3 separate regions of the Homo sapiens genome follow, and regions 1 and 2 are each linked to region 3. Evidence: fine-mapped expression QTL. A gene starts in region 3. Each other region holds a variant in brackets. All regions are shown on one strand. Distances are between the middles of the regions.

Region 1 (10,665 bases), 18 kb before region 3:
TTGGGACAGCACACAACATTTCCCAAACTTGCTTCACCTTGTAACTCTTTTTTTCAGAGCATCTCTTTTGAACGGTGTTCCCAGGAACATACCTGGGCAGCCTGACACAAAGTGGGGGTCTGTCTGCCAGTCCCCAAGAGCTGGGGCAGGAGGGATGATGGATCTGACTGGAGTGAAACCAGGGCCTCTTCCATGTCATCCCCTGTCCTGGTTCCTAACAAAAGTGTTCACAACAGTGTGGGGCTCACCTGGTCACTCCTCACAGCTGGAAACGTCTCATGCAATTTCAGACACCTGCTCAGCAGATCCAAGAAGCCCAGTGCCTGCCCTGGAAGGTAGGACTGGGCACAAGTACTTTCTCGTTCAAGCTGCAGACCTCTCGCATTCTAATGGGTCTATGTGGGGTCTATGATTGTTTTGGGGGGTTGAATCTTCTTCCCCTGAAAACCTGAAAGTGATAAGCACAGGCTTCAAAGTAGATGGGTTCTCAGTGCTGAGCCTGCAGGCAAGACAGGTCCTGGCAGCCATGTGCCTCCGAGGCCTCCCCACTCACAATACCCACTTGGACCATGGCAGCTCCTCCACTGCCCCTGACTCTCCACTCACAATATCCCCTTGGACCATGGCAGTTCCTCCACTGCCCCAGCTCCCTGCTTCCACACCCATACCTGCATTTTCCTAGCCAGTTAACCCAAGTATATTGCTCCCTATAAGGACCTTTAAGCTCAACTAGTCCAGAATGTCCAAGGGCAGATATGTGAGGTTTGTGGGGACACAGGCTAGCTCAGGAAGGTGTAGCCAACACCACCGGAAGATGCTCCAGGCAGCGGAATGGCTCTTGGCCCAGGTGCTGATGAGTCAAACTCCCAGTGACTGGCCAGGTATCTGGGTGGCTGAGAATTCATGAGGTCTTGATGGCTGGTGCTACCCAAGGCCCTAAAGTCTAGAATCTAAAGGTGGGAGTTTGGTAATTCACAGGTTCTAAGAAGACCCTATTCTCACTTCCTCTCCAGCCAAATCCTCTTCCCACTATCTGATGTGAGGCCCATTCACAGCAGCAATCTTCTGGCTTAAAAATATTTTTTTTTTTGCTTTACATTTTTAAAATTGTTCAGATATATATGCCCTTGAGAGGGATGTCCCTTTCAGCCTTATAGGGCATCTAGACCTCAGGATGAATTCATGGCTGCGGTAATGAAGAACCTGCAGTGAGAATGTGGAGATTCTGTGTAACTGTGGGCTAGGTGAAAGAATGGATAGTGGCAGGGAAATCTCAGGGGAGGTGAGCAGAAGAGACCATCCAAGTCTGCCTAGGCCCCAGCCACTCTCCCTTACAGCCCTGTTCTTTAAACTCTTTTCCACTTCCCTTTCTGAAGAAAGCACAAAAAAGAGGCATTTACATCTAGGTGCTTCTGCCACCACATGCAATGGCGTTTCTTCTCCTTTCCAGTCATACATCAAGACCAAGCTGAAATGCCACCTTGTCAGTGAAAGTTTCTCCCCGTGCCCCACAGCTCTTTGAATTGTGTGACTGTATTATTTCTTCTCCTATTTAAATCAAGAAACTATATCTTGAAAGCAGGAGTTTTGCTCATGTCTCTACTGGCAGTGCTTAGCAGAGCCCATGGTATATAGTAGGAGCTTAGTCAATGTTCAATGCAGGTAAGAATGAACATGAGGCATTCACTAAGGAGCCATTACAAAGACAGGGCTTTGCTCACCCACTCTGGCCTGAGCCATGGCTCCTGCTCACTCCCACCCTTGCAGGCTGCCTCCGAGGCACCACTCCCATTTCTTCCCGACAGCAAAACTTCACACCCCAAAGCAATGGCTCTGCTACATCCCCAAAGTGAAGAGCCTAGACGGCAAATAACACCCACCCACCAGTCAAGCTAGTGCCCCTCAACCTGGCAGACTGGACAAAGACATGACTTAGAAAGGTCAAAGGGAGCTCCGAGTCGCCACGGCCTCAAAGACCATCACCCTTCATGGCAACCACAATCAGGGACAAGATGGAAGTCTGTCCAGGACTCTGACTCTCTGTTCTAGAATTCAGTGACACTCATTACACTCTGTGCCTGACACTGTGCATATTTTAGGGAAGAATATCTATCCCTGGTATCCAGATTGCTTGTGTTTTGAAATCTTGAACAAATGGAGATGATGGGGCAGTAAGGACTGGGAGCCCCAGGGCAGGACCTTGCCTGCCTCACTCACCACTGTACTTGGCACACAGTGGGGCCCCGGTAACTGTTATTTTATTAATAAATTAATATTCAATTGATAAATGAATCATACAGGGAAACTAGAGCCAGAGGTATCCTTACAAAAGGTACCCACACTCTCCACACTGTATACCCATTTGAACTTTTTATACTGTCCACTGTAGACACACATGACCTATTTAAAAAAGAAAATAAACCAGCATACATGGAAGATCCCTTTCATGTTTAAAAAAAAAAAGAGAAGGCCAGGTGCGGTGGCTCACGCCTGTAATCCCAGCACTTTCAGAAGCCGAGGTGGGCAGATCACGAGGTCAGGAGATCAAGATCATCCTGGCTAACACGGTGAAACCCCATCTCTACTAAAAAAAATACAAAATGTTAGCCAGGCATGGTGGCACGCACCTGTAGTCCCAGCTACTCAGGAGGCTGAGGCAGGAGAATGGCGTGAACCTGGGAGGCAGAGCTTGCAGTGAGCTGAGATCGTGCGACTGCATTCCAGCCTGGGCAACACAGCAAGACTCCGTCTCAAAAAAAACAAAAACAAAAAAAAAGAGAAGGGAGAGAACAAGAAAAAATTCTGTCTTGCTGGAAGGATGATGAGTCTTCTCTCGGTAGCAGGGTTATTTTCACTTTCTTCTTTACTCCTCTAACCATTTTCTGAGTGTTCAAATGAGCATGTGTTCATTTATCACTACAAAATCAATTAAAGCTATATGTATCCTGAAAAGAACAAATCAACACAAAAACCCATCCCAACCTGAGAGTGAGGAGGAATGCGATGGCCAGAGAAATCAGAAAAAGACTTCGGAGAGGATTAAATGCAAGAGAATGAAGGGACCTGGCCAAAATGAGGAAATGACCATGAAACCACTTTGAAACTTGCAAAAGACATCTTCCTTCCTGCCTTCCCTCCTGTACCAGCTCACTGCTCACTAGAGGCCTCATTTCATAAACTTTACTGGCAATCTCCTCAAACACCCCTTCACTCCTCGTTCCCTCTGAGCCCATTAATGAGGACCTGTGTTGCTCCAACTCTCTTTCTAGTCTAGCAGTTTCAAGACAATCATTAGGGAAATGATAAAAATAGGTTCACTTATTGATTTATCTCCTTTACCCAATGCTCCTTCCTTTGAATGGTTGACTTGTTTCCTTAGCAACATGGCTAATTTGAGCAGCACGACGTGGCCTGCACACCTGCCATTTGTTCATTTCCTTCTTGAAGCACAGAAAGCTGGGGCAAGGGTGGTGATGCTGGTTCTGCTGTCACCGGAGCCCTGGGGGCCTGGCCTGGAGCTGAGCTCTTCATCTGCCTGAGCCTGAAAAGCCTCCTCATCATCACCTCTCAGGTACAGATCTGTAGGTACATGCTTGGGAAGGACTTAGGCCTCAGGCAGTAAATATTGGGTGTCCCCAGGCAAACATGCATCTCTATCACCACCAGGGGGCTCATCCTGAAGACCTCTGTACTTAGCTGTCTCCTCCCAGAGCCTATGACATCCGAACACTAAGAAGGCCATGCTCTGACAGGCAGGCAGATAGAATGCTGTGCACTCTCCCAACTTCAGCCTAATGCAGAATATGCTTTTGTGGGGAGCAGTCGGTGGGCACTCAGGCACTTCCTGGAAACTCCTGGGGGGGTATAGAAGAGTCCACAGTCTGAGGGGAGGCATTCCTCAGCCTCCTTTACCCATTTCCACCCCTCACCCCAGACCCTACAGGAAGACCTGTCTCCTTTTCTCCCTTCAGTCTCATGTTTTTGGATGTCTAAATCCAAGAGATGTAACAGCCTCAGAGGATGGCATGGACACCTTCATGCATGTCTTTCCACCTCTTCTTCATGTGCACATAAATATCATCCTAATAAGTGGACTTTGACTCAAAGACAGTAACAGAGAAAGAGCCTTAACTAGTCTGTGATTCCCTATTAGCATGACACCAAATAGACATTTTACATATGAACAGGAATGAAATACAGCTATCCAAGCCTTCCGTGTAACTTCAGAATCTTCTTCAAGACCTGGAATGCAATGGAAAAAATGTAGCTTGGTAAAGGAAACCAGAGCCAGGCCTCCGACTGCAAAAGCTGTCCCAACACAGTACTCAAGAGTCAATGAAGGGTTATGACCATCCATTCCCACAGAACCAAACAAGAAATACAAAAGGACTGAAGCCTAAAATGATACCGGAATCTGAACTCCCTCTGAAAACTGTAAAGTGTTGCACAAATACAGTTACTTTCAGTATCCTACTAACTCAATCTTTCAGCATCTACTGTGG[C/T]TCAATACTTTGGGGAAAGCATCTGTTGGTGGTTACAGCCTCCAGCCCTCAGGAGTGGGCTGGCTGGCTGTAGCCATGGACTGACACAGAGGAGACCAACTCCAATAAAGGATTTAAAAGAAAATTATGGTAATGGGCCTCCAGGAAAAGAGCAAAGACATTTGGCCCAGAACCTCCTGAGAATATGGAAAGCGCATCCAAACACCAGTCCCCAGAGGAGGATTTATGAAGCTGATGGCTCTGATGCAATCTCTCCCAGTGATTAGAAGGGATATTAATCACACCCCAGGCCAGGGCTAAGAACAGGAGGGGTTGAACCATCACAGAAGTCTGGCTCCAGTTCCCACAGACCCTGATGGAAATGCAGTGAGATCATGCTGGTGAGATCATATGACCCTCGTCTGAGCCGACTGAGAAAGATACATCTGTCCTGGAGGGACGAGTAATGCCGAAGACATAAGACCTTGTGCCTAAAACCCAGACATAGCAATAGTTATGACCATCACTTCAACAGTGTGTCTGCATCCCTCATGGTCTTCCTCACCTTCCTAGAAGCAGACATTCTTACAGAAATCTCTGCTTCCTAACCTGTCTACACAAAAGGAAAATTCAAACCAGCCCTGTTCAAACAGGCCTGGCCTGGCCAGGCACAGTGGCTCACGCCTGCAATCCCAGCACTTTGGGAGGCCGAGGCGAGTGAATCACTTGAGGTCAAGAGTTCAAGACCAGCCTGGCCAACATGGTGAAACACTGTCTCTGCAATTAATACAAAAATTAGCCAGACATGGTGGTGGGCACCTGTAATCCCAGCTACTTAGGAGGCTGAGGCAGGAGAATAGCTTGAACCCAGGAGATGGAGGTTGTGGTGAGCCGAGATCATACCACTGCACTCCAGCCTGGGGGACAGGGTGAGACTCTGTCTCAAAAAACAAAACAAAACAAAAAAAGAACAAGCAAGCAAAAACAGCCCTGGCCAGTCCAGCTCCCTTCCTGGAGGGATGTTTCACATTTTCTCCAGATCATGGCATAAAGTAGAAGTCAGTATGAGGTAAAAAGATGGAGAGCCAAGAGGGCTTTCTAATGCCTCTCAGCAAGCCGCTCCACCCTGCCCAGGTGAGAGGGCCCAGGTTAAGAGATAAGCTATGGTGCAAGGAGTCTTGGCCCAGGGCTCCTTCTGGACTTCTTTGCACTCACTCCTATGGCTGCCCTGGCAGGACATGGCAGCCCAAAAGAGACCAGCCCAGAAAAGGGAATAAACAGACAGAACTATTCCTGGAGATTCTGAGGAGCTATAGATGAACTTTTCAATTCTCTGAAAATAAATGTTAACCTTCCAAATTTATCAATATATGGACTATCTTCCTATTTGGGTAGTCCATACTTTTAGGTTTCCTGGGTCTGTTCTGGGCTGATCAACAGAAGGTGAACCACACATCACCTCCAAAGGGCAAGAGGGCTAAACCCCTGTGTTTCTCCATGTGACAGTTAGCAGTGTACAACTCTGGCTGCAAACCTGGAAGTCCACCCTGCATACCCCTCCCATCCCCTCTCTAACCACGGCAGGAGACATGCACTGTCAACAAGCAGAAAAACATGAAAGAAGGCTCTGCCTACTCCATACTGTCCCATGTCATCATCTCATTGCTTTCCTTGTGCAATTTTTCTCACCACCCAACCTCATCTTAAAAAAAAAGACTAAAAAACCAAACCCCTTTTCTTTTTTTAAAACAAAACAAAACAAAAATGTATCATGTGACTTCCAGCCTTAACATCAGTTTTTTAACTTTGGTTTCCATGGTGGTGGGATGCAACCTGCCATCGCCATGACAACAGCTGCCTCTGTTCAAATTCACCATCTGACAGGCAGTCCTGAACAGACACACACCTCTCTCCTTCTTAATCCCTCTCTCTCTCTCTCTTCCCCACTCCTGCTGTCAAGAAGATGGAAATGCCATCACACCTACTCCTAAAAACCTAATGAATGAAAGACAAATAAAGCAATATTGAGAACATAACAAAGAGGCAGAGAACTCCCCAAAAGGCCTTTTGTTTGCCAATACAATCCTGCTGCTCTCTCATGGAGGTCAGTGGACTCAGTTACTCAAAGCAAAAGATCCTAAGCATTACCCATTTAATGCTGGCTGTGAAGGCAAGTCCAAATTCTCATTACTTTAGACCAAAGAACTCCCATCTGACTCCCAGGACCCTGCCCTCTGGATAAAGTGGCTGAAAGGAAGTGCACATGATTGCTACTTTGGTGAACCAACACTGAGGTCAGTTCCAGACTCATCTGGGCCCTGATTCCCAAAGGATGGGAAGTGCTGGTTCTGAGAAAATAAGACAGTACTGTCTCCCTCCCTCCTCCCACTGCCATGCCCCTTGCAGTTACAGACAGCTGGATAAGTCTTAACAAATTCATTTGTTTTGCGTGTGACTGGATCCTGGACTCAAAACGCTGTCATTCAACACACAGTTTTGGTGAACAGCAGACAAATGATTGAACGCTACAGAAAAGGGAAAAAAGAAAAGGGGAGCATTAAAAGCCTCTGGAAGAAAACAAAACAGCAGTGGGAAAATTACCTGTTTCAGAAACGAGAATTTGTGTTTTGATGACACTCTGATGAATTGGAGCCCATCAAGAGTTCTGGCAGCAACGTGCATTTCAGGGAAGATGACTATGAGGTGCAATCAGCAACCCCACCCAAGACTACACCCCACTTCATATCAACACCAGCATCATGGAACTGAGACAGCATAAGAAAAATGAAAAGCCTTTTGTGAAAGAGTCCATAGATCACCTGTGGGAGAATGTTTGTTTTCCTCTGAAAACTCTGCAACTGTGCCCTGGCATTCAAAGACACCTACTGAGCCTGCAAACCACGTGAGATAATGTTGAAAGAACTAGGGATACTCAGCTTGGAAAGGGAAGACTTGAGAAATACATCACAGCTGCTTTCAAATATCTGAAGGGCTAGCTTGTAATAAGGGGCTCAGATGTTTTCTAAGTTATTATGGAGGCAAAGACTAAGACCCAATGTGCAGAGTACCCATCCGAAGACAGATCTGGAGCAATAAAGAGAAGAACTTCCACTGTTCCACAAGTGAATGGACTATTTTGTTAAGTAGAAAACTAAGTGTTGTGCTAATAGATGTTTAACTTCGGGGGAAAAGCCCCAATGTGTAGCATTTGCAAATTTCTGGGGTATAAATACTCTCTCCATGGCCAATTTCAAGCTACCATCTTGATATCACTGAACATGGAGTCTAGAAGAGACATACAGAGAGGACACTCAAGAGCTGGGACAAGCCAGTTTCAGCACAGCACTTATTGTGAGTTCCACATCCCCAGGGGAGTGTCAAGGATGTTAAGGCGGTGACTGCTGTATTCAATGGTAGTCATGCTGGATCAACCTTCATATGCATAAGGGGTGAACCAACCAGGTAGGAAGCAAGGTCAACAACTCTTAGTCACTTGCTCAAGGGCCTCCTGGGTGAGCCTTACTCTGTCCTTCAGCCTCAAATGGCCTCCTCAGCCAGACCTGCATTCAGGATGTCTGGTCCATCCCCCTCATCACAGAAGGCTGTTACCTGTGCAGCTGGAGGTGTGTCGGAAGCAGCCACAGGTGAATGGCTTTGTCAATGCAGTGACACATAAGAATTAATCACCCCATTCTCTCAGGCTAAATTTCAAGACACCCAGGCGGCTCCTGCTATTTCACCATAGCCTGCAAGAAAACTGAGAGGGAGCAGCCAAGACGTAATCAAAGTACACTCAAAAGAAACAGAAGGAAGTCAGGTAACTGGCTCCCCTCGGTCTAGAAGATCAGTGGATCTCAGCCATGGCTGGACCATAGAATCACCTGGAAAGCTTTTCAAAATTAAGAATACAGGGGTCCTATCTCCAGAAATTTGGATTTAATTTGTCTTGGCTGCAGTCTAGGTATCAGCATTTCTAGAAGTTCCCAGGCTTATTCTAATGTGCAGCCAGGCTTCGAATGCTGGAGACCAAGAAAGTTAATCGTGTCCTCCAATCAGCTGAAATAACAATGATGGAAACTAGAATCCCAGAGTCTCTACAGTGGGAACTGAAAGGCACCTTAGAGTCTTAGTAACTATTCCAACACACTCATTTTACAGATGTAGATGCTGAGACCAGGAAAGGAATGAGATTTTTCTAGAACCAGGGCTAGAAACCTCTCTGTACTCTCAGCCCTACACCCTGAAAAGCTTGGGAAAACTATTATCAGAATAATCAAATAAAATTCCCTGGTCTCTTAGCTCCAATAGAGAATTCTAAAAGAAAGGGATCTAAAGATCTTTTTATTTGAGCTGCTTCCTCCTTCCCAGGAGTACTCAATTGTTCTCAAAGAGCTACCTCTCAGGGCAGAGTCTGGATAGTTTGCCTTTCTTAGGGCTACTGAAGAGCCCAGCAACCATTCTGAGATGAGTGCTTGCCTAAGCATCCATCTATTCTCCCATCTGCTGAGATCTGCTCTTGGTTTTACACTGGGTAGAAGTCCATTGCCTATTGAGTTTTATATTATCATTTCACAAAGTTCTCCAGCAACATATTTGGGAAAGAAGAATATTAACCATTTTTCTGAGTCACTGTTACCAATTCTCACTGGATCTCTGCTGGTTGGCTTCACCTCTATGAATATCTTTCTCTTATCCATTCCTATTTTTTCTTACGTAAGTCCTTTCTTATTAGTCATGATCCTTATATCCAGCCTCCTATGCCCCAAACACCAAAAACATATACTTGCTAAGGATGAGGAAGCCCCAGAAGAGAAAGAAGGGACTAGAGAGAAGATGGTTGAGCACAGAAAGGGTACAGAGGAAAGAAGAGAAAATGTGACAAAAGGATGCTGGCACTTGGTCGCGGCCCTGGGTTCTAGGCTCTGCTCTGCCACTTATTGAGGCAAATCATTTAACCTCTATGGCCTTCAGTTTTCTTATGGATAAGTGTGAGTTTGATTCAAGTTTCTTTTTATTCTCTATAAATCTAATATTCTAGTATTCTGTTATGCTAATGAGGAACATGATGGGAAGGGAAATGGAGGAGAAAGAAAGAGCATACATGATTACAACTGAGAGAAGCCATTTTTGGTGAAATTACTAATGAGGAGATCCCACAATAGCATTCAAAAATGGAAATCCTGGCACACCCAGGGACATCTTGAAAGGGTCTAGAGTCCATGGAAATACTTCTAAATTGTCAAGCATAGGAGCTCCATGACCAGTTGGATTCGCTAGCAGCTTCTCTAACAGAGTTAAAGAAAAGCTAGAATCTTCACAATGGTGGCCTGGAAGTGAACCATTGTGGAAAAGCTGCCCTTTTCCACAAACCTACTATAAGCCTCTTCTATAGTCTTTATCAGGATATAAGAGTCTTTCTGCAGTCTCTCTATAACCCAACCCTCATTTCCTTAAAAAGCTGCATTCAGTATGTAAAATTTCAAGAGAAGGTCATGAAAGCTGCCACCTCCACACTATGACTCACACTATGGGTACCCCAGAACAGAAAGGACTGAGGGTAGACTTCTCTGAGAACCGGAAAAAAGAAAATGGACTTTCCATGCTAATATTGAAAGGGGAACTGGCATTTCCAAACCAAACGCGCTCTGCAGACAGATAAAGGAACTGCAGCAGTGGAGTTTTGGCGGGGGAAAGACAAAATAGCAAAGATCTCAGATTCCGACTCAAGCTCGCATTCCAGTGACCCAGGCCAGGATGTCTCAGGTCCATTTCATGATGACCATAATGATGGGAAAGAGATAGTTGCTCTTCTTCCATCTACTGATCCTTCACTCCTTCATGAGTTAGCCTCATACCCAGTGATGCTGCAGATGCATGCAAGTAGTTCACAGTGTCATCCTAAAAAGATACTCTGTTAGGGAAGAGTACCTGCTGGTCTTCTGGTCTAACCCAAGGCAGCATGAAACAATGGAAAGAGAGCAGCCAGTGGCACCAGTCAGACCACATCTATCTGTGACCTTAAGCTAATCATCTATAAAATGAGAACAATATCCACTTCACCCGGGGTTGGATTAAATGATACACTCCTCTAGAGCACACTGTAGAGTGCCTGTCATACAATAGGCATTCATTAAAGGTTAGTTTCCTCCATCCATTCTCAGGGATGCATATTGAGGAACAGAAA
Region 2 (10,665 bases), 56 kb before region 3:
GGCACACATCCCCTTCCAAACCATGCCTTACATCTGCTAGAGGTGAACACTCCATTTACAAGACTGTCGGGGCAGCTTCTGCTTCCCCACGGCGTGTCTGTCAACACAGGCCAGTCATCCCGCTCTCCTGCAGCACCCCAACCCTCTCCCCACATCTCAGGATGGCTCTCTAGGTTCCTTAGGCTCCTCCCCAACCCCCTAGAGGCACACGTGATGCTCCATCTGCATATATTTCAATATAATGGGATCACAGAAAGAACACTCCTGAAGGAACAGCAAAGAAAGTGTTTGGACTTGGGGCCCCTGGGGGAGCCTTGGGCCAAGAAAAAAATAAATCATCTTTCCTGGAGACAGAGGGACATGAAAGGGGTCTTGAAAGCTATGAGGGAAAAGAAAGGCAGGCGACAACTATTGTGATCAAAATGTGGAATTCACCCAAACTCCCTGAACAGAAGTCCATCAGGGTAAAGCAGACAGACTGTGGTTTCCTCGTGCCTCCTCTCTTTCCTGTTCTCAGGGGAGAAATTCTATCCTCCAGCTTCTTGAGCTCCTGCCCCCTGCCCTAAGGGACAGCCTGTGTGGAGCCAGGAGTAGTCAAGACCACACCCTCACGTGGGAGGAGGAAATCTCCCACCTCAGTGTGGGGGGATTCCAAGCTGGGAGCACTGCCATCCCCCCACAGCCCTGCAGGACACAGGGAGCCCACCAACTGGACCACTGTCTTCCCTGCCTCAGTGCGCTGAGTCCCTGGAATGGACGAACATCTAAAATGCCAAGTATGACAAAATACTTTGAGATACTGCATTTCAAATAGTCAAAAAATAAGGCAAAAGATACAACAAACATGGTATTATATGTAACAGGGGTTAATATTTTCTGTTATTTCTTTCAAATCATGTTTTAAAAAACCTAGACATTTCAGACACAGGCAAGGCTCCACCCAACCTGTTTTCATCCCCTCCTTCTGGGAGTAACTACTGTCCTGGGGTTGGTTAGATCAGCCCCATGCTTATTTATGTACACCCCCAACATAGCAAGACTTTTTTTTTTGGAGCTGAAATGTTTTTACCGTGGTCCATGAGCCACCTGCATCAGAATGATCTGAGTGCTTGCTAAACAGGCAGATTCCTTACCCTCTGGGGGTAGGGCCAAATTTTTCATTTTAAACAAGAACCTCAGAAGATTTTGATGCACGCTGAAGTTTGGAGAGCCACTGTGCTAGCTTAAGGCTCCAAACATTCTTAAAATGCAAAACAACCAACCACAATGACCAAAACAAACAGCCATACCCTGGGAAAGGTGACCCTTTAAATTGCTATCTGTCATTTGCTGCCCCATGTAAATGACAGATTCTGAAACAGGTTTTACACTCTCTCTGATTAGCAAACCCTCCGGGGTCAGCCTGCTGCTTCCCCACCATGTCCACAGCTCACTTGGGGCCACAATAGAACAACAATAAACATTTATTATCTGCACGGGAATGAAGGAGGGGGAGAAGGGTGCTAAAACGCCAGCTACATCTAAATTTTCAGCTTGCACCAACCCACCACTGCCACCATTTGTAGTATGCCTCTGGCACCTTATAGGTTACAATAAAGTTAAAACGTATACTGCAATTGGATATTTGTACTTTTGTTGCCATCCTAATTTAGAAGCTATATGCATTTTTATAGCAGCTTTATTGAGTTATAATTTACAACCACATAATTTACCCTTCTAAAGCGTACAATTCAGTGGGGTTTTTTTTTTTAGTATATTCAGGATTGTGCAACCATCACCACTATCTAATTTTAGGACATTTTCAACGCTCCAAAAAAACTCCAAACCCATTACCAGTCAACTCCCCACCTCACTTCTACCAGCCTTTCGTAACAACTATCGTACGCCCTTTATGGATTTGCTCATTCTGAACTTTTTAATATAAATGGAGTCATAAAATATGTAGCCTGTTGTGAGGAACTTCTTTATGTTTTCCAGGTCCACCCACATTATAGCAAGTATCAGTACTTTGTTGCTTTTCATTGTCGAGTAGTATTCCATTGTCTGACATGCCACATTTTGTCTACCCATTCATCAGCTGATGTACACTTGGGATACTTTTTGTCTATTGTGAATGATGCTGCTATGGACATTAATGCACAACTTTTTGTATGGGTATATGTTATGCCTCTTAAAATTTCTAGAGGTGAAATAGCTGGGTCATATGGTCCATGTTTAACATTTTAAGGAGCTTAAAAGAGGCTGTGCCATTTCACATTCTCAACAGCAATGTGTGAGGATCCAAATTTCTCCATATTCCTGCTCAATATTTGTTATTGTCTGTCTCTTTTATTGTAACCACCCTAATGGGTGTGAGGTGGTATCTTATCGTGGTTTTTATTTGCATTTCCCTAATGGCTAATGATGTTGCCTTGCTCAGTTCCAGCTGCTTTAAAAAATACCATACACTGGGTGGCCTCAACAACAGAAATTTATTTCTCAAAGTTTTGGAGGCTGGGATGTCCAAGATCAAGGTGCTGGCCAGTTAGATTCCTGGCGAGGACCCTCTTCTCAGTCTGCAGAGAACCATCTTCTTACTGTGTTCTCACATGACAGAGAGAGATGAAGCAAGCTCTCTTACGGCTGTTCTGAAAGCACTATTCCCATCATAAAGGCTGTACCCTTATGAACTAATTAGCTCCCCCAAACCCTACCTCCAAATATCATTACATTGGGGACTGGGGTTTCAACATATGAATTTGTGGACAGGAACATTCAGTCCATAGCAGATGAACATCAGTTCCTGTGCTTATTGGCCATTTGCATGTTCATTCTTTAAGCTCTTACTCAGGAACCTGAAACCCTAGTGAACAGTGGTTCCCAAAATGTGGTCCCCTCCCGACACACGCACCCATCAGCAGCATCAGCATCAGCAGGGATCTTATTAGAAATGCAAATTTTCAAGCCCTACCCCAGGTTATCTGAATTAGAAACACAGGGAGTGGGGCCCAACAATCTCGTTTTAAGCTTTCCAGACAATTCTGATGTAGGCATAAGTCTGAGAATCAGTGTTATAAGACAACATTTCTTACAGAGTATTCTCTAATATTTTAATATGTGACATTTGACTTTAAAAATTCCTTGGTTATATGAGTTTAGGAAACAATGGACTACGCAAACAAACAAAAAATCCTTAAGACTTGTTTATATTCTTTAATATGCTTATGAGCAACGTGTATTTCCAAGAAGGAGATCTAGTATGCAGCATTTCCCAAACTAATAAACACATCAAACCCCTTATATATGGAGCATCTTGCAGGACTACTGTTCCACAAAAGTTACTTTAGGTAACATTACTTTAAAGGTATTCCATAAATCAAGAAATTAAAAGGCATGCCACTGTATTAGTCCGATTTCATACTGCTATAAAGAACTGCTCGGGACTGGGTAATTTATAAGGGAAAGAGTTTTAACTGACTCACAGTTCAGCGTGGCTGGGGAGGCCTCAGGAAACTTAGAATCATGGCAAAGGGGAAGTAAGACACTTTCTTCACAAGGCAGCAGGAAGGAGAAGTGCTGAGCCAATGGGGAAGAGCCCCTTATAAAACCATCAGATCTCGTGAGAACTCACTCACTATCATGAGAACAGCATGGGGGAAACCACCCCCATGATTCAATTACCTCCACCTGATCTCCCCCTTGACATGTGGGGACTGTGGAGATTACAATTCAAGATGAGATTTGGGTGGAGACACAAAGCCAAACAATATCAGCCACTATTTCTTCATCAAGTCAAGTCTGTTGTTAAGAACATCCTTTAAACTAGTTCTTTACAAAGTTTTTTGCTTTAATTATCTATTAACACTTCTGAAAAGCAAGCTTCGTGGCTTAAAACAGTAATTAGCAATGTGGGGAATCTGAGAGTGTTTTTGTGGGGATCTTTTGCTCAAGATCTCTCATGAGGTTGCAGTCAAGAAACCAACCACAGTTGGAGTCAAGCTGTCAGCTGGGGTTTGCAGTTATCTGAACACTTGACTAATCTGGGTTTCCAGGACGGCTTACTCATGGCTTTGGCAGGAGTCTCCAGTTCCTGATCATGTGACTTTCCATAGGGCTCCTTGAGTGTCCTCATGATATGGTAACCTGCTTCCCCACCAAGCAAGTGATCCAAGAGAGCAAGGAAGATATGGCAATGTCTGCTAGGACCTAGCCTCAAAAGCCACACCCTCACTTCTGCCGTGTTCTCTTGGTCACCCAGACCAAACCTGATACAATGGTGGGGAGCAAGGGCCTACATGAGGACATAGAGACCAAGCAGCAGTGATCACTGTGTTAGTAAGTGACAAAGCTGAGATTTGAACCCAGGCAGTCTGGCTCCAGAGTTCATGCCACTGAGACTGCTACTTCTCTATTATACGAAGAAACAAGATCTCTAATACTCCTTGAAGAATGTGTGACTCAAAAAGACGAGTCTTTGCAGGTCAAAACATAACATGTGCTCCTCTGCTTGGTGTTAGCATGTCCACATGGTTTAGCAGCTGCTGCTAAGCACTGCGGCTTGCCCAGAAACAGAGCCTTTCAGAACATAGGACTGGAACTGTTCATTAGCTAATTAGGCCGTTCTCAACTAATCTGGGAGATGAGCATCAATTTACTTCTGTTTTGCTGCTCTCAACGATCCTGTTACCATCAAACTGCAAATCATCCCCTTCCCCCTTTTTTTTTTCATTGTCTACCTATCTAATGGGGAGATTCATAACTCCTAGTACCTCTAGCTCCTGAAATCCTATTCCTTGAAAATTCTCTCCATCTTTTTTTAAGTGTATCTTTAACTGTTATTATGTTAAACATATATAATGTTGGATATAAAGCTTCAACTTCTTTCTAAATGGAAAGTACAACATTTCTGCCTAAAAACCTGTTAAATCTTAAGATTTTTTAGGACCTTAAGAACATCCTTGCAATATTTTGCCCGCGTAGTGGAGGAAAAAACCTTTTCCTTTTACCCTTCCAGGTTCTCAGCTGTGGTTCTATAACAAAAGACAAATTAACAAAAGAAAAACATACAGATTTATTTAATTCAGGTTAAATATCCTTTATCCAAAATGCATGGGAGCAGAGGTGTTTTGGATTTCTTTGATTTGGGAATATTCATGTTATACTCACCAGTTGAGCATCTCTAATCCAAAACTCCAAAATCTGAAATGCTCCAATGAGCATTTGAATACCACGTTACAAGAAGTTACAGATTTTGGAGCATTTCCTGATTTTGGATTTTTGGATTAGGGATGCTTAACCTGTATAACTTTTATAAGACACAGGAGCCTTTATAAGGAAATGAGGACTCCAAGAAATGATTATACCTGACTGTT[T/C]TAATACCAGGTTTGATGAAGAGTGGAAAATTATGGAAAAATACAATAAGACAAAATGGTGTGGGCTAAGTACAGTAAACTAGGGGAGACTTTGCGAGGTCCATTTGTTCATATCCCTGTCAGTGTCCCTCTGTCTTCAGGGATCACGATGCTCCTTTCCTCCAGGGATGGGAGGGCACCTCTCACATGAGCGTTCTATGAGCTCTTTCAGGGGAAGACCAGAGAGTCTTTCCTGCACACGTTGTTTTTCAAATTCCTTTAGCTTAAAACATTGAGTACGCCAAGGTGACATATTTTGGGGAGCATATTCTAAACCCCATCATCTGCCTTCCTAATTCTCTCACTTTCATATGTGTCATTCATTTGTTAATTTGTTCAATATTTATCAAATATTGCTGAATAACTACTAAGTGCCAGGCACACAAGGAGTACACACTACCATATAAAAGCCATATAAAACACCATGTTGCCATAGAGCACAGAGATTAGGGTAGTAAACACAGGGGAATCAGCCCTGTGCCACGGTTTGGGAGATGAGGATACAGGGCATTCCTGATGATGAGGCACCTACTCGAAGCCCTCTGATGTTTATTGTGTGCATGTATAGAATTACAATAAATTCCACAAGGGATCTAGGAAATGCGTTTACATCGGGGGATTTTGTGAAGGTTCTCCATCTCCCTTATTATAAACAATCTGAAGGGTCTAACTGTGCATCACAAGCACACAACAGGATGTCACACCCAAATAGGAGGTGTTCATTGAGCATCTGCTGATGGTGATGATAAGGAGGAGAGAGACCAAAGAGGACCTAAATAGGAAGCATGTTTATTTGTTGTAAGACTGGGGACCTGAAATCTGGCATCCTGGTTTCTAATTTTACCTTTGTCCTATTTTAACACAAGACCTATAATAAGTAATACAGCTCCACTGTACACCACTTTTACATGTGGCCACTAAAAGCAAAGACTAAACTCTGGGTCTATCTTCTGTGGAGACAAGGTGAATTTTAACATGAGTCTTATCCATTAAGTAATGTAATGGTTTTATACATAATATTCAGAGGTTACTGCTCAGAGGAAGGATTTCTACTAAGAAAAATGCTTATCAGTTTTTTCAGGTTACTTTTACTCAACTTAAGAAAAGCTTCAGTGGGACTCAGACCTTGCGGGACACCTGGATTGAGAGGCTCATACAGAGCATTAGTAGTGGTAAAAGGACCATTAGAGAAGGGGTAAGCAGACCGGGAATAATATATTCTTCCTCCCATGAAGGTGATCATGTGACAAGGATTGGCTGGATCAACCTTCCATTTCTTCATTTGGCCTTAAAGGTATCCTTGAAATATTTTGCCTGTCTTCCTGAATTCTTCCCCCTTTCATATCTGCCATTCATTCATTCATTAATTCATTAATTAGCTTGTTCAGTCATTATCTGTTCATTTGGTAATATTTGCTGAATGACTACTAAGTGCCAGGCACACAAGGAGTTCAAATAGAATACAATACAACCCCTGCCTTCAAGCCCTTGGTGAGAAGCTATGTAGTGGAGGAGATACTAATGTCAACTGGGTGAGTGAAGTTTAGGGTGAGCCTAGTCAACGAGTAACGGAAAATAGAAGGAAATGGGGAGGAAGCACAGTCAGGGAATAGTCACTTAGCTGAATAGATACCAGCCAGAGGGATGGCAGGGTTGGTGTTACAGCATGCAAAAGAGCACATTCAAAAGGAAGGAGGCATGAAATAGCACACAATTCAAGGAACCACAAGTAGTCCAGTATAGCTGGAGGGCAGGCTGCATGTGGTCAGGTCAGGAGGGATCTTGTATTCTGCTGCAGAAAACAGCAAACCACTGAAAGCCTTTAGGCAAAGAATTGCAGAATTATATTACATTTTGTGAAACCATGCTTATCATCTTCTGCATGATCTTTTTCAAAATTCAACAGAAGCCTTTTCAGATTAACACTATATCACTGAACAGATTTTCACTTTGTAGATTCTCAGGACTTTGCTAGTCAGTTTGCTTTCCTCCACTTTCCCTGACTGAATGCCCTTTCCCATGTTCTCCTTGGCAATCTCCTACCCACCTTCAACATCCAGCTTAAATAAATATCACCTCTCTGTGTTTTTTTTTTCCCAAACACAGTCACCTTCTCCTTCTTCCATACTCCCAGAATACATTCAACAGAGCATTAGTGCGGTGATGTATTGCAATTGCTTCTTGTCACTCTCTTCCACTAGACTATGGGTCCCAGGAAGGCACAGATTTGCATTCCAATTTACATATACATGCACATTTACGTATAACACATGAAAAAGATTCCATTGAATCAGCAGTACTTTATTGAACACCTGCTCTGTGCCAGACAATGTGCTGGATGCTGGTATTCAATACAGAACCACCATATAAAGGACATCTTTCTCATGCAGCATGTATAAAAATGCATGTAATATATATGTGTATGGAAATTAGAATGTAAGTTCCCTTAAAGCAGATATATTTTTCAGTTCTCTGAACCTGAAAGATTAACCACAACTGATTTTTTAAAACTCATTACCTAATTTATTTGCAATCATATCATATGAGAAAGCAGAAAGATTTAAAATGGTTTCAAGCACCAATAACTCAATATGTAAAAATTTTAAATATTGAGCTGGTAGGGTAAGAATCAAATGGCCAGAAACACACAGCTTTTATATTACATAAAAACACTAAGACAGAAAACACTAGAACAGGGCACCCTGTCCAACTAACTTCTACAAGATCTTCTGCAAACTGCATGGAATATAAATATTTGGTGACTTTTCATTCACTCAGTATATATTTATTAGTGCCATTTTTGTTGTTCCAATATATTTCAGGTACTATGCTAAGTGCTTTACATGTGTTAGCTTAATAATTCTCAAACTAATCCTACATAGTAGGTAGCCCCTTATCTGGGTAAATTATTTAATCTCACTGTACCTCTGTTTCTTCATCTATAAAATGGCAATAGTAATAGAATAGACATCATAGGGTTGTTGAGGCATTAGATGTGTTTGCACAGGTAAAGTACTTAGAACAGTGCCTGACATACACTCCAATTTCAAATATTAACTGAGAATCACCACTACCACCCTCATGCTTCATCATCATCACCACCTCATTTTGAATGTGAAGTAACTGAGACTCAGAGAGGTTAGAAGAAAATATTGCCTCAACTTCTCTCTCAGACAGGTAGACTGAACACACACTGTGACCTCTCCCCCCTTCCACCAAATTCCTAGAAATCATTTTCTATATACATACAGTAACCACACTGGACAGAAAAAAGAGAAACAAACCCTCACTAGGCTAGATGTTGTGATGAATCCCCTCTGGACAGAAAGTAGCTACAATCTGATTTTTAAAAAGAAACCACAGGCCAGGTGTGGTGGCTCACACCTGTAATCCCAGCACTTTGGGAGGCCAAGGTGGGTGGATCGCCTGAGGTTAGGAGTTCAAGACCAGCCTGGCCAACAAGGTGAAACCCTGTCTCTACTAAAAACACAAAATTAGCCAGGTGTGGTGGTTCATGCCTGTAATCCCAGTTACTTGGGAAGCTGAGGCAGGAGAATCACTTGAATCTTGGAGGTGGAGGGTGCAGTGAGCCGAGATCGTGCCACTGCACTCCAGCCTGGGCAACAAGAGCAAAACTCCATCTCAAAAAAAAAAAAAAAAAAAAAGAAAAGAAAAAGAAACCACGGCCCCCAGCCCTCAGAAGAGAATATGACCACTCTAAATGTAGGCATGTCACCACAAGTGCTCCCACCTACAGAGGGTGGCCACTGGGATCTGATGGGATCCAGGTGACCAACAGGGTGATGGTTTGAATACAGTAGCAGGAAGATCAAGCACTCACTTTAACCCTCCTCCTTAACCCACCTTATCCCTCAGACCAGGCAGCAAAAAGGAAAATATGCCCACAAGCAGGGGCAATGGGCATGAAAGTTGGGTGAGAAAGATGGGGAAGTGCTCTCATGCCTTTCCATGCCTGAGAGGAACAGGAAGTGCTCTCTCCCAGGGGACTGGTCATCAAAGTGACCCATCCAGCAGCAGGTCTCACCACTTCTATACCCTTGCCAGACTATTAGCTTCATAGGTATTCTCCTTCCAAGAAGTTTGCACAAACAGACATGGTAGAAAGAAGATAATATTACAATCAAGAATCACCAAAAACTTGAGGAATTTCAATACCACGGAGAGAGAGAGAACAAACTCAACAATCAAAGAACTTATACTCAATGAGAATGAAGACATATAATTATCAGCTTAGAGAAAAGTGTGAGAATATTGCAAGCATTTTACAAAATTACCTAGAGATGGTGCAATTGAACATTTCGATAACTGAAAACTTTTAAAATGATTAAGTAGATTGAGTGGCAAAATAGACAGGTGAATTTGAGATGTGAAAAACTGAACTGAGCAGTGTTCCCAGAAATCAACACAAGAGTAAGAAAAAGATGAAAAATATAAAGAAAAGATTAAAAATAGAGGGAAGAAATTCCAACATCATTTAAAACAAGTGCTACAAATAAAGAATAGATAAAATGGAGAGAAGCAAAATTAAGAAGTGGAGAAGCAGAGAATTTGAAAGTAAAAGAATCAATTCAAAAGTACTTCCCAGCATTGAATAAAAATAGAAATCTTAAAATGCCATAAAAATAAAAATAAATAGAAACCATCATATAAGACACATATTAGTGAAATTTTACAGCACCAAAAGTAAGGAAAAAATGCTAATGCTTCCAATGAAAGAGGAAACAAAAGTTATCTGTAAAGAAATAATCATGTTGGCCAGGCATGGTGGCTCATGCCTGTAATCCCAGCACTTTGGGAGGCCAAGGTCGGTGGACCACCTGAGGTCAGGAGTTTAAGACCAGCCTGGCCAACATGGTGAAACCCCATCTCTACTAAAAATACAAAAATTAGCCGGGGTGATAGTGCATGCCTGTAATCCCAGCTACTTGGGAGGCTGAGGCAGGAAAATCGCTGGAACCCGGGAGGCAGAGGTTGCAGTGAACTGAGATTGCACTGTTGCACTCCAGCCTGGGCAACAGAGAGAGAATCTGTCTCGAAAAAAAAAAAAAAAGAAATAATCATGTTGATATTGGAAGCACTATCAGCCACAAAGGATAAAAGACAACAATCGAGTGGTTAAAAATTTAAAGGTAATCATCTATATGTGCATGGGTATGGGTGTATTACATATGTATGTATGTGTGTGTATATATGGCAGAAATGTAATTTACATTTATACATATATACATAAAAATATATTTATATACACACATTA
Region 3 (10,665 bases):
CACGTACCTTCCACTTAACCACAGTCTCTGAGTAGAAAAGGCTAGTAGTTGCATATTTTGGGGGCACTCAAATGTAACAGGGCTGGGTAGGAGGCAGTCATCATAAAAATGACAAGAAAAAGCAGGTTACAAGATTTCTCCCCAGCTTCCTTTCTGTTGTGTGACAGTCCCACTGCAGAAAACAAAGGTCTTAGAGAAAAAGTAGATTCCTGAAGTTGGTCCTCTGTGAGAGACCTTAATAATCCTACCCAAGAGGAAGACAAATAACCTTCCTTTTCTGAAAATCCTAGGAAAAACCCACACATATAATGAATTATTCACAAAGGCTGAACCTAAAAATGAGAGAGGGAGAAATATAGAAAGATGAAAAGACGGGCAGAAAGAGAAAGTAAAGACCTGGTCTCTCTCTCTCTCTGAATAAATGGATATTAATTAGAGTTGCATTTAGGTTTCCTCTTTTATGTCTTTGTGGTCAGTGATAAGCAAAATAAGATCAGCAGAGTCACCATTGATGGACTGGATTGCACATCTGGGCTTTGGTGTTTGGTGAGCTGTAGCTTTCCAGGCAGCCCTGTGCATGACGTAAGGGAGGTGGCTGACCTGCTCATCAAACACATGGAGTCAAGGGTTTGCAAGAGTTCTGAGAGCTTAGCAAAGCTTCACTCAGTTTTATTTTCACTAAGAATATGAAGATTGAAAGAAACCAGATGTTCCTATAAAGAAGGGGGAAAGCAGCAGAATTTGAGGGGGAAAAACACCTACATTTTGTACAGCAGTGCTATAAAGAGATAAGTAATTTTGGATGGAGCTAATAATTTCAGAGTCTGGATGTTTCAGAAGAAAAAAAAAGCAGGCCTGTTCTCATTACTTTCCTCTTCCTCCTTTAATTCATAGCATGCACTGCGCCTATTGCAGAAAAAGCAAGTGGAGGGAAGTGGAGAAATAATGACATGCAAACCAACAGACAAAACTATCACATTGAGGATATTTTTGTCTCTATCCTCAAGTCATTTCATTTCTGTCAAATTCCTTCACTCCAACTCATTTTTCAGGCTTCATCCCAATTATAAATGGTCCCCACAACAAGTCATGGCCTGGTTTCCACATGAAACATTACCCACACTTCATATCAAAAGCAAAGCCAACAGGCAATTCAGAGATTGTCCTGGGATGCTCAGAAAATGAAGAACTTTCTCCTACAGCTCCAGTACCAGCTGCAGTCACTATCTGTTTCACCATCTGCATCCACGCACAGGTACACAGAAGATATGAACCCCTCTGCATTATCTGATCATAGGATATAATTACAGACTTCATCCTTGTTAGCTGCCATCATCTTCCCTAATCAAGGCATCTTGACTCATGATTCACTAGTTACATCAAACCTGAAATTCTTACCGGGACCTCAGTCTACTATCCTGCAATGTGCTATACATTTATAGGCAACAAAAGCAGAAGAAAAGAAGACACCAAAATGGGAGATTTAAGAACTAAAACTTTTGGTAACCCTCACCAAAATCCTCCAAAATAAACGGACATTTTACAATGGGAGATTCACAGTAGTAAAGCATACAACCTCTGATCCATAGCCAGAGTGCTTTGGGGATACAGTGAAATTCTCTACAATAAGAAATCATGGATTAATGTCCACAGGTTCATTGTGATGAGCTTCATTATCTCAGGGCTGCAAACATATTTGACCTTCCTACTGTAAGCCATATTCATTTCCACACGAAGCATGTTCTCCCCTGCTGAGACAACCAAGGCGATGGAGGTGTGGGGGGAATATCCTATTGCCCAACTCTGGCATAGAGTCTCCAAGCCAGACACACTACTTCTTGCCTTCACACCCGTGACCTGGAAAAGTTCAAACAAGTGTGGGGCATCCTGCAAACCACATGAGAGATGCTGTATGGCCCACAGGGTAACTGGCCCTGGGCATGAAACAGTGAGAGCTGGTAAGCATGAGGCACGGTGAACATGGGAGGGCACTCAGAACAGCCAACTGCCAGAGAAGATCTATTAGATGAGCAAAAAAGAAAATGAAAACGAGGAATCGTATAGAATGTAACATCACATTTTAAATCACATTAGCATTTTTAAAAAGAGTATGGTATCCACTGCAGAGGAAAGTGCCATAAGAAAATAAAATTATCTCCCTATGCAGATGTAGCTTCCAAGAAAAATGAAACACATTCAGAGTAGGCTGTTGACTTGCCACCATCTTTCATGCCAAATCTGGGTTATCTTGAGCATTTCTTCCCATAAGAACTAGACCTCCCCTATTAATAACTGGATAAGATTACCCTCCCCCTCCAAGTCGGGGTGATCCTAGAAGCATAAATTAAACCATTCCTTTTACTTAACCAATCTTTTCAGACAAACATGATTAAAGACCAGTAATGCACAGCATGATGAGACCACTAATGCGGCACATAGAAGTGTACATTATCCCCCTCGTCCTACAGTGACTTTCTGCAGCCAATGAAAGTGTAAGTCTCAAAACGTGTTGTAACACAAACAAAATCCTCAAGCATGCTAAATGTGCAAATGTCAATATGAAAGCAGGTCTTGACATGTTTTCTGAACAACTGAACAACCTTCCTTTCTTAAAAAAAAAAAAAAAAATCTGGCACTTACAAAGAGCAAAGAAGTACTTCCTAAACTTTAATGAGCATATTAATCACACAGGGATCTCATTACAATGCAGATTCTGATTCAGCAGGATTGAAGTGGGGCCCAGGATTCTGAATTTTTAGCAAGCTCCCAGGTGATGTGGATGCAGCTCCTTGCTCTCTTTGAGAGGCAAGAATCTAGAGGACTTCACCTGAACTAAGACCCCTCCCCACTTCAGGCACGCTGAAATTTCTGAAAGATGCCATTAATAATAACAACTAGTGATTACTGGGTAATTAGATAATGTTTTAGGCATGTGATATATATTAAGTCATTTAATTCTCCCAGTATTATTATTATTATCCTCATTTAACAGGTAAGAAGACTGAGTCACAGAGTAATGAAGTAATTTTCAAGGTCAGAAAGCTGGTGAAGGAACTAGGATTTCAACCCAGGCAGCCTAGCTCCAAAGCTTTATGGGCAACCACTACCCAGACTGACTCCCAATAAGACAAAGCAAGATACTTGGGAAGTTATTTGTTTAGAAAGGAAAGGAAGGTGAGACTAGGAATTTAGGTGCGTTTCCCACGGAAGCCCAATGTTTCCACGTGGTCACCACCAGAGGGAATATATTAGTCAATTACATTGTACATGGTGTATTTTATATTTTCCAACAGGGCTCCACTAAACACCTTAGCAGATGTTCCCTGAACACTGTTACCACAGCCTACATGCTGTAGAACCACTGTGAAATTTCCAACTATGCAGACAAAAGAGACCATTGGGACAGGGCTCGGGGCCAAGGCACTGAGCATGATGCTGAAATCAACTCCCTCGAGAGTCTCCCGTTTGACTCTCTTTGGTCCATTTTTGGCCAAAGACAAGGAAAGGGAGGAGTAAGACTCACAGCCGCACCTTGCGCGCTCGCAACGCCTGGTGGAAAGGCGGTGTCTTTGCAGCGGAAGAGAAAACGTGAAAAAAGGTGACCACGTGGTGTAGGAAACGTGCCTGGTTTCTCAGCTCCAAGGCTGGGCCCGGCCAGAAGTACCCGAGGTGCTGAACCCGGGTAACTGGGGAGCCCCGGGCCGCCGGGAGTTTCAGCGGCGCTGTCCGAGGTGCCAACGATGGCTGCTGGCACACTTTGCCACCCGCGGGGCGGTTGGGCGGCTTTGTCTACCGCAAAGAAACGGGAGGGCGCCTGTCTGAATAAACACGCCCCTAAGAGAGGGGCACAGCAAGGCAGCACCTGGTGGATGGGAAGATTTAGAGAACCGTAGAAGCCGAGTGAGAAAGGAGGGCCCAGCTGGGAAATCCGTAGACTGCCTAGAGGAATATTTGCAGCCGCAGCACACAACACAATGAGATCTGTCCGCTTTGTGCAGCGCACCGGCAGGCGTGACTGCAGGGACCCGACCCCTCCCCCGCCCGAAACCTCCACCCTAGCTAGATACGTTCAACTCAGGCAATGGATGGCCTGGGATCACTCTGTGAGAGTGGAGCAGGGGAGCGGGATGCAGAGAGGAGAGAGGGAGAAGCCCAGCCGGGGTTGCTGTGGGAGGATGCGAACAGCAGCAGGAAGAATATCTGCTTAGAGATGCTCCTTCGTTTCTAATGAGGGGGTGCTGCCTAGAAGCACCACGCGCCAGCCAATCACCGAGCTGCTGAGGCAGGGAACTAGAGAAGAAGGGGAAGGCCAGAGACTGGGGTTGGGGGAGTAGGGAGATGCCCAGGCCCTGGGGGAAATGAGCCGCGTGTCTGGCTAATACTAGAGACCCAAGGCAGCTCCAGCTGCCTCACTGCTGCACACCTGGACGGTGGGGGTGGGAAAGAGGGAGAATAGGGGAGAAAAGAAGGGGCCTCCATTGCAGATGCATCCCTCCCAAATCTCCCTCCCAAAGTCCCATGTCTCCAACCCCATCCCCATATTTAACGCCAGACCACTAGCTTGCCTCCTACTAATCCCCTTCACTGCCTCACCACCCCCAATTCCCAATGGCCTTGCCAGGCGTCCAATCCTTAGTGAAGAACAAGGCAGTGAGCTGCCTAATCAGCAGTCTGCATTTGGTGCACTTGATTAAACCTGCAAAGAAGCTCCTTCCATGCCTGTTCACCCTGACACCACCACCATCAGAGATGGCCCCCACCAGTGCTTTGGGGAGAGCAGTTCCTTTGGAGCTAGGGAGAGAGAGACTGCATGCACACCTCTGGCCTCAGCGGATGAATTCAGGCCCAGCCGATCCACCTGGATCCTGGATACTGGGAGAGCAATCAGCTGGGTCAAGCACTAAGAAGCAAGAGTACCCAACCAAGGACCAAGGACAGGATGGGCCTGATGAGCTGCTCTTTCTTGGCTGAGAGGAGAACTCCAAGTTTGAGCTCCTTGGGCTGTGGCAACAGAGATCACCTCCCCTGACAGACACTCACTCATGCCACTTTCAGTGGAACTTAAACTTAAGTCCCTAGAGTTAGCTGAGTCCCCACCCAAAAGCCTGTTTTATTTATTCATTTGTCTATCTGTACACAGGGTTTTGGCCCTGGGAACTTCTGAACTGATAAATCCCCTCATGGAGCCTTGACTTCCCTACAGGAAGACAGTGCGGTGTCTCCTGGTTGGTGGGGATACGGGCAGAGTGGCTGGCTTAAAGAAAGGAAAATGAGAATTAATTATGAAAGGAAGCATTGGGGCAACCCAATCTATGTAGAGGGCGGCATGTGAAGGGAGTAGGGGTGGGGAGGGGGCTGGGAATCAGACAAAGCCCAGCCCAGAAAGGGATGCACCCAGGGACACTAAAGATTTCCACATAGGAAAAATAAAAAACCAAAAGTCTTACCTTGAAAAACACTAGTGCCCAAACGGGTCTCCACGGCACCAAGCTTGCCCCTTAGATGCACCGAAGAGTGTGCTTCAGCAAAGGGGCAAATTGGCACCAGGAAGGGGTGGGGGATACATTCCATGCTAGGTACCCCCCTTCACCCGAAGAAATGCAAAGGGGGAGAGGGAGTTATGGTGGGCAAGAAAGGATATGGCCAATCGATGAGCTTCTTGGCATATTTCCTGACAATGTTATCTTCTCCGAAGATGAACAGGGATCTGTTGACGGTGAAACAGTTCTGCCGGACGGGAATGGGGTTGTACAAAGCCATAGTCCGCGCCCTCTGTGCTTTCGTCTGCTTGTAGGCGGCCGCCTGCCCCGAGGCCGGCACGGGGGTTCCTTGCCGGTTCCTGCTCTGGTCCGAGTCTCCATCGCCGGACCCTGGCCTGGCGACCACCGCCTCCCCGAAGCGAGCCATCCTGAGGTTTAAACAGACAGAAGACACACAAAGGTGATCGCGGCCGAACACCCGCACACAGCAACAAGCAGAAAGACACACGGAGACTCAGAGCCGCATCCAGACAAGCACGGGGACCACCGCCTCTGGGGAGCTCCGCGAGCTCTTCGGAGAGGCAGCAGCAGCAGCCCGCCGCTGTGAACTGTTGAATCTAAATGCAACCTCTGCGAAGCTCCATTCCTCAAGAAGGAAAAAAAAAAAAAAGAAAAAAGAAAAAAAAAGCGGGTGGTAGGGCTTGGGGGTGCCCAGTTTCTGGAGGAAAATATTTTTTTCAAAATGCCAGTGTGTGGTGGTGTTCAGGGACCAGAGAGGAGAGGGGTGGAGTAGGCTGCTCTTCAAACATAGCTCCTCTTCTGGCAGACGCACCACCTAGTTCAGGGAGAGAGGCAGGCACCGGCCCGCTAGGTAACAGTTTGGTGATTTATTGGTTGGGGGAAGGGGTGGGAAGGAGGGGAAAATGAAAACAAAAGAACTTTAAAAAAAAATAAACAAAGACGAGGACGGGGTTACGATGACATGCTTTATAACGCCAGCCCCTGCAAGTCCATCTAAGAAATTCCACCGCGAAGACTTGGGTCTTTATATCTGCCAGCAGAGACGCATCCAAAGGTTGGAGAAAGAGGGAGGGAGGTGGGGAGAGCGATATTGAGGTTCCTGCGTAAACCGCAATGCCCAAAATCTCAAAATAAGAAGTCGATCCAAGCGAAAAGGGACAAATGACTTCAAAGCTCCTGCGCTTGGGCTAGAAGTTGAGCAGCATCCAGAGAGCAGCGAAGCCTGAGTGCCAGCATCCGCCCGGAGCGCTCGCCACCGCCGCCTCCCCGGATCAGCATGCAACAGCGATCCGCGGCTGCGCCGCCGAGAGGGCGGGAGTGCGAGCGGGCGGGCGGCGAGCACCGGCGGGCGAGGAACAGGTTGCAGCCGAGCCTCGCGGCGGCCTGGCACCACACTTGTCCACAGACCGAACTTCCTCACTAACGGCTCAGTCTCCCTCTTCCCCGCAGGCAGCGCCCTCGGCGGAGCACTGGAGAAGATGCGGAAGGAGAATGGGGAGGCGAGGCAGAGGACAGCGAGCGGCGCGCAGAGGCGCAGCGAGGCGCGCAAGAGCGCTGGGAGAAGCGGGGGAGGAGCTGGCCAGGCGGGAGGGGCGGGGACGCAGCCGGAAGGCTGGAGGTTCCTGGAAGGTGAGGCTGGCTTGCCTTCTTGATTTATGTGGCCAAAGGGTAGCAGCCACCTCTGCAAAGGTCCAGTGAAGAGTCCCCTTTCCCCCAAGTAATGCCGAGAAGAGAGAGGCAGGTGCAGCCAGCGATGCGGCGGAGTCTCCGCAAGAGAGCGAGGGCCTGGCGTGGGGCGCACACGCACGCGCGTCTTGGGTCCCTGCAGAGAGGTGTCCCCAGTGCTGTGCCCTGTTCGGTGCCGGGAGCGGTGCCACGGGCCCGCCGCCGCCCTAGTAAGGTGTCGGGGCCTTTGCGCGCCTAGCGCCATGGCCGCGTCGCCGCTCCTCCGCACCTCCCAGGCTCCACGAACACGGCCAGGCATTTCCAAGTAGAGGGCAGAACCCTCTCCCCATCTCCCCACTTAGCACCTGGGAGGCCCCGTGGAGGAGGCTAGGACCTCTGGGGGTTCCACACTCTGCTGGTGGTGCTGGCTCCTGGCGGGAGCTTCTGCCCTCACGGGGCGGCCTCCCGGTTCCGCTGTAGGAAAGCCCTGCCCGACGTCTCCTGGAAGGGCCCTCCATGGTGAGTTATGGGCTAAAACTACCCTTCTCGAAATGCGAACAATCAGAAGGATCCTCCCGCCCCCCATCCTTTACTCCCAAATAAGCTCCACGGACTTTCTCAAACCCAACCCATTAATGTAGAAAAAAAAAAAAATAGAATTGGTATCTGAGCTGCAGAGGTGGGAAAGGTGGACTCCAAGCCCCAGGGAAAGAGCTCCTGTTTAGCCGCCAAGCCCTTCCCCACAGGTGACTGGTGGTTTGAACTGAGGGCAGGGACCAGCTGTCCCCTCCCATGTCCACACTAGCTGGGGCACACCGTCTTCTGTGTTTTCCTGCCTTGGCTCAACACATAGGCCTCTCCAAATCCTTCCAACCCGAACAATGGAAGGGAAGAAGGAAAGGAGGGGCTGAGGAAGGAAACAGACACTGACCAAAGCCCAGAGGTTGGAAACCATGGGTGAGTATGGCTTCACGCCTGTGAAGTGAGATTAACTGTTGAGAAGTGAGGTGATGTCTGAGTGCATGGCATGTGTGTTTCTACGGGTATGTGTCTGTCTGTGGGCAAGGCCCTGTGAGCACTGACATGTGTCTGTTGTGTGAGAATGTATGTGAGAGTGTGTGTGTGTGTGTGTGTGTGTGTGTGTGTGTGTAGGAAAATTCTCTACTGGAAATCCAAAGGAATGGTCTCAACATGTCCAGCCTGCTGCCCTTGGGGAAGGCATTTGACCTTTGGATTCAGGGGAGCCCATTTCAGGTGAAATTACTATTCAAGGTGAGTCAGCTGTAATTGTTACTTTGATTTCACATTACTGCCTTACTCTGTCCTTCCTCCTGCTTTAATCAGAGGGTCCTCTTCTGTCTGAATACCTAGTCAGTCGTGAAACGGAGGGAGGGTGGTGCTGTGAACCATGAAGTCCCATCAGCCAGTCACTTAGAACTAGTCCCAAGTGGCTATCTCGGTATCCCTGTAAACTACATAGGGTTAGAAAAAGGGCTTTCAGAAATTATTAAGTGTATGTCGCTCCTTTCAGACAGTACCATAATCCATAGCACAAAATTCATTCAAATCATTAGAGAAGTATCTTTGAGTCCCTTCCAGGTGCCAGGCACTGTTTTAGGCACTGAGGATACTATAATGAACAAGATGGGTGATGACATAAATCATGTAGCTTTTTACACTAGATTATACTAGATTGTATAACCTTGCAGGCCAGAAAGCTTCATGAACTTCACTCTCATGCTGTCACCTCACCCCTTTCCTTTGTGGTTCTGCCTCAGCAGGCTGGCGGCATACCTTCTCAATGCCCAGAATAAGCAGGGCTCACTAGCCTTTTACTTCCCAGACTTAGTTCTTGGAACATCAGAGATCCCCGACTTGTCTCTTCAGTGTTATCAGATGTCAGCAGAGATCCAGTATTCCACGTCCTGTATTCTCTTTGGCTGTTGTAATTCTTCAGAGACCTAGAATACTCAAGATGGGATACTACATGTGCAAATGCGACGACACACTGGAGTTGATATCTGCCTTCTTGCCTTCCAAGGAGACAGGAATCATAAATGCATAGGTTGGGAATTAATGTGGAATACCTTAGGGAGTTTCAGCACCTATGTGAGTTAAAAGGGATAATTCTTGGAGGGTGCAGCCAAAAAGGAAAGGGGCAAACATAATGGCATAAATGGCTTTGTGAAGAGACTTGGCCTAAGGGCAGCAGTGCTAGCAGGAAGACAGACTCTCATCTTCCACCCCCACCTGGCTGTCATAGCTCTTGAGAGCTTTGAGATCTATGAATTTCTATACTGGTTTCATACTCTCTAATCCCCCATTCTACCAGCCCCCAAGGCAGCTACAGTTGTTGTTTTTATTTTTTTTTATAGAGACGACGGTCTCACTATGTTGTCCTAGCTGGCAACTCCTAGGCTCAAGCAATCCACCTGCCTCAGCCTCCCAAAGTGCTAGCATGAGCCATTGCGCCCCGCCAGTGGCTACAATTTTAATGGTTGAATAATACATGTGTTTAATAGTTTTCAGTTTACATAAGCCCCACAGCTGAGCCTGACTCCAAACTTCTGAGGTGAGCCTGGTAACACATGTATCACGACCCTTGACAGACAAAGCAGCAGAGTTTCAGCAACGTTAAGCCGTTTGCCCACATCTGATAAGCGGCAGAGTGTGGACTTCTAACACATCTGACTTCCAATCTGCGGCTCTTTCTAAAACCCATGCTGCCCTTCAGGACAGCAATAGGGTAATTCTAAATTGTTTATCAAGAGAAGAAACTATACAATGACACTAAGCCTATGGAAATGCTATGCTTACCATCCTCAAATTGAATTTGATCAGAGGCCAAGTGTTCCTGGCACCATGCCCTCAATATCCAGGAGGATCCTCAGAAAAAGTTCATGACCAGAATACTGTAGTCATGCGGTATTGCATGACTTCATATGGGAATTTCTTCATATGGGAATTTGGTGGGCATTCTCCTTCCAGTGCCCCGAGTTCCACTGTCCTATTAAGGATCCACAAATGGAAATGTGGAAAATTAGCAATTAGTCATAACTCTGATTGGAAACCAGTCTGAAGACCATCTGAAAATCCCTTTCCAGTCTCAGAGGGACAGTAACTGTATTTTCCTGTTGTCAGAGCACCATCTACTGGTCACTGAGCACGAGTGCTTGGCAGCCCAGCACCCCATGCACCATGCCTCAGAGCTTAGATATTCCTAGGCTCTGACCTCTTGTCAACAGCCCTCTACTCCCCTATGGGACTTTGTTGAGGTACTAAATTTCACCACAATGCAGCCAGCCCATCTCACAGTAGTTGGAAAGTGCAGCCCCACACACACCCTCCCAAGTTAAGATGGGGTTACCAAATGCTCCACATGTTTTTCTGAAAGCAATGACCTGCAAAGTGGAAACCCAACAGGAGCTAAGGAAGCAAGTGGAAAACTTTCCTACTTTATAAAGCCCATGAAGACTATTACATTTCAAAGCATTTATCC

Evidence for each region. PIP is the estimated chance that this variant, and not a neighbour inherited with it, causes the effect.
Region 1: its variant is fine-mapped to the expression of CACNA1E in whole blood (TOPMed, PIP above 0.99).
Region 2: its variant is fine-mapped to the expression of CACNA1E in whole blood (TOPMed, PIP above 0.99).

Annotation. Positions count from the first base shown.
Region 1 is chr1:181,497,477-181,508,141 of GRCh38, reverse strand. All of the region lies in intron 1 of CACNA1E (calcium voltage-gated channel subunit alpha1 E), which reads right to left. Among named protein-coding and RNA genes, the nearest start is that of CACNA1E, 19 kb to the right of the region's middle. RefSeq lists enhancers at 2,648-2,877, 3,298-3,417, 9,990-10,139. The variant C/T (reference allele first, on the strand shown) is at 4,503.
Region 2 is chr1:181,535,486-181,546,150 of GRCh38, reverse strand. The region is part of intron 3 of CACNA1E (calcium voltage-gated channel subunit alpha1 E); the gene reads right to left. Among named protein-coding and RNA genes, the nearest start is that of CACNA1E, 57 kb to the right of the region's middle. The variant T/C (reference allele first, on the strand shown) is at 5,352.
Region 3 is chr1:181,478,987-181,489,651 of GRCh38, reverse strand. It overlaps CACNA1E (calcium voltage-gated channel subunit alpha1 E), which reads right to left and starts at 6,135. Exons shown (of 48, transcript NM_001205293.3): 1 at 5,642-6,135. The coding sequence starts at 5,907. RefSeq lists enhancers at 4,288-4,417, 5,380-5,903, 5,904-6,428, 7,231-7,360, 7,412-7,944 and silencers at 6,781-6,910, 6,951-7,080.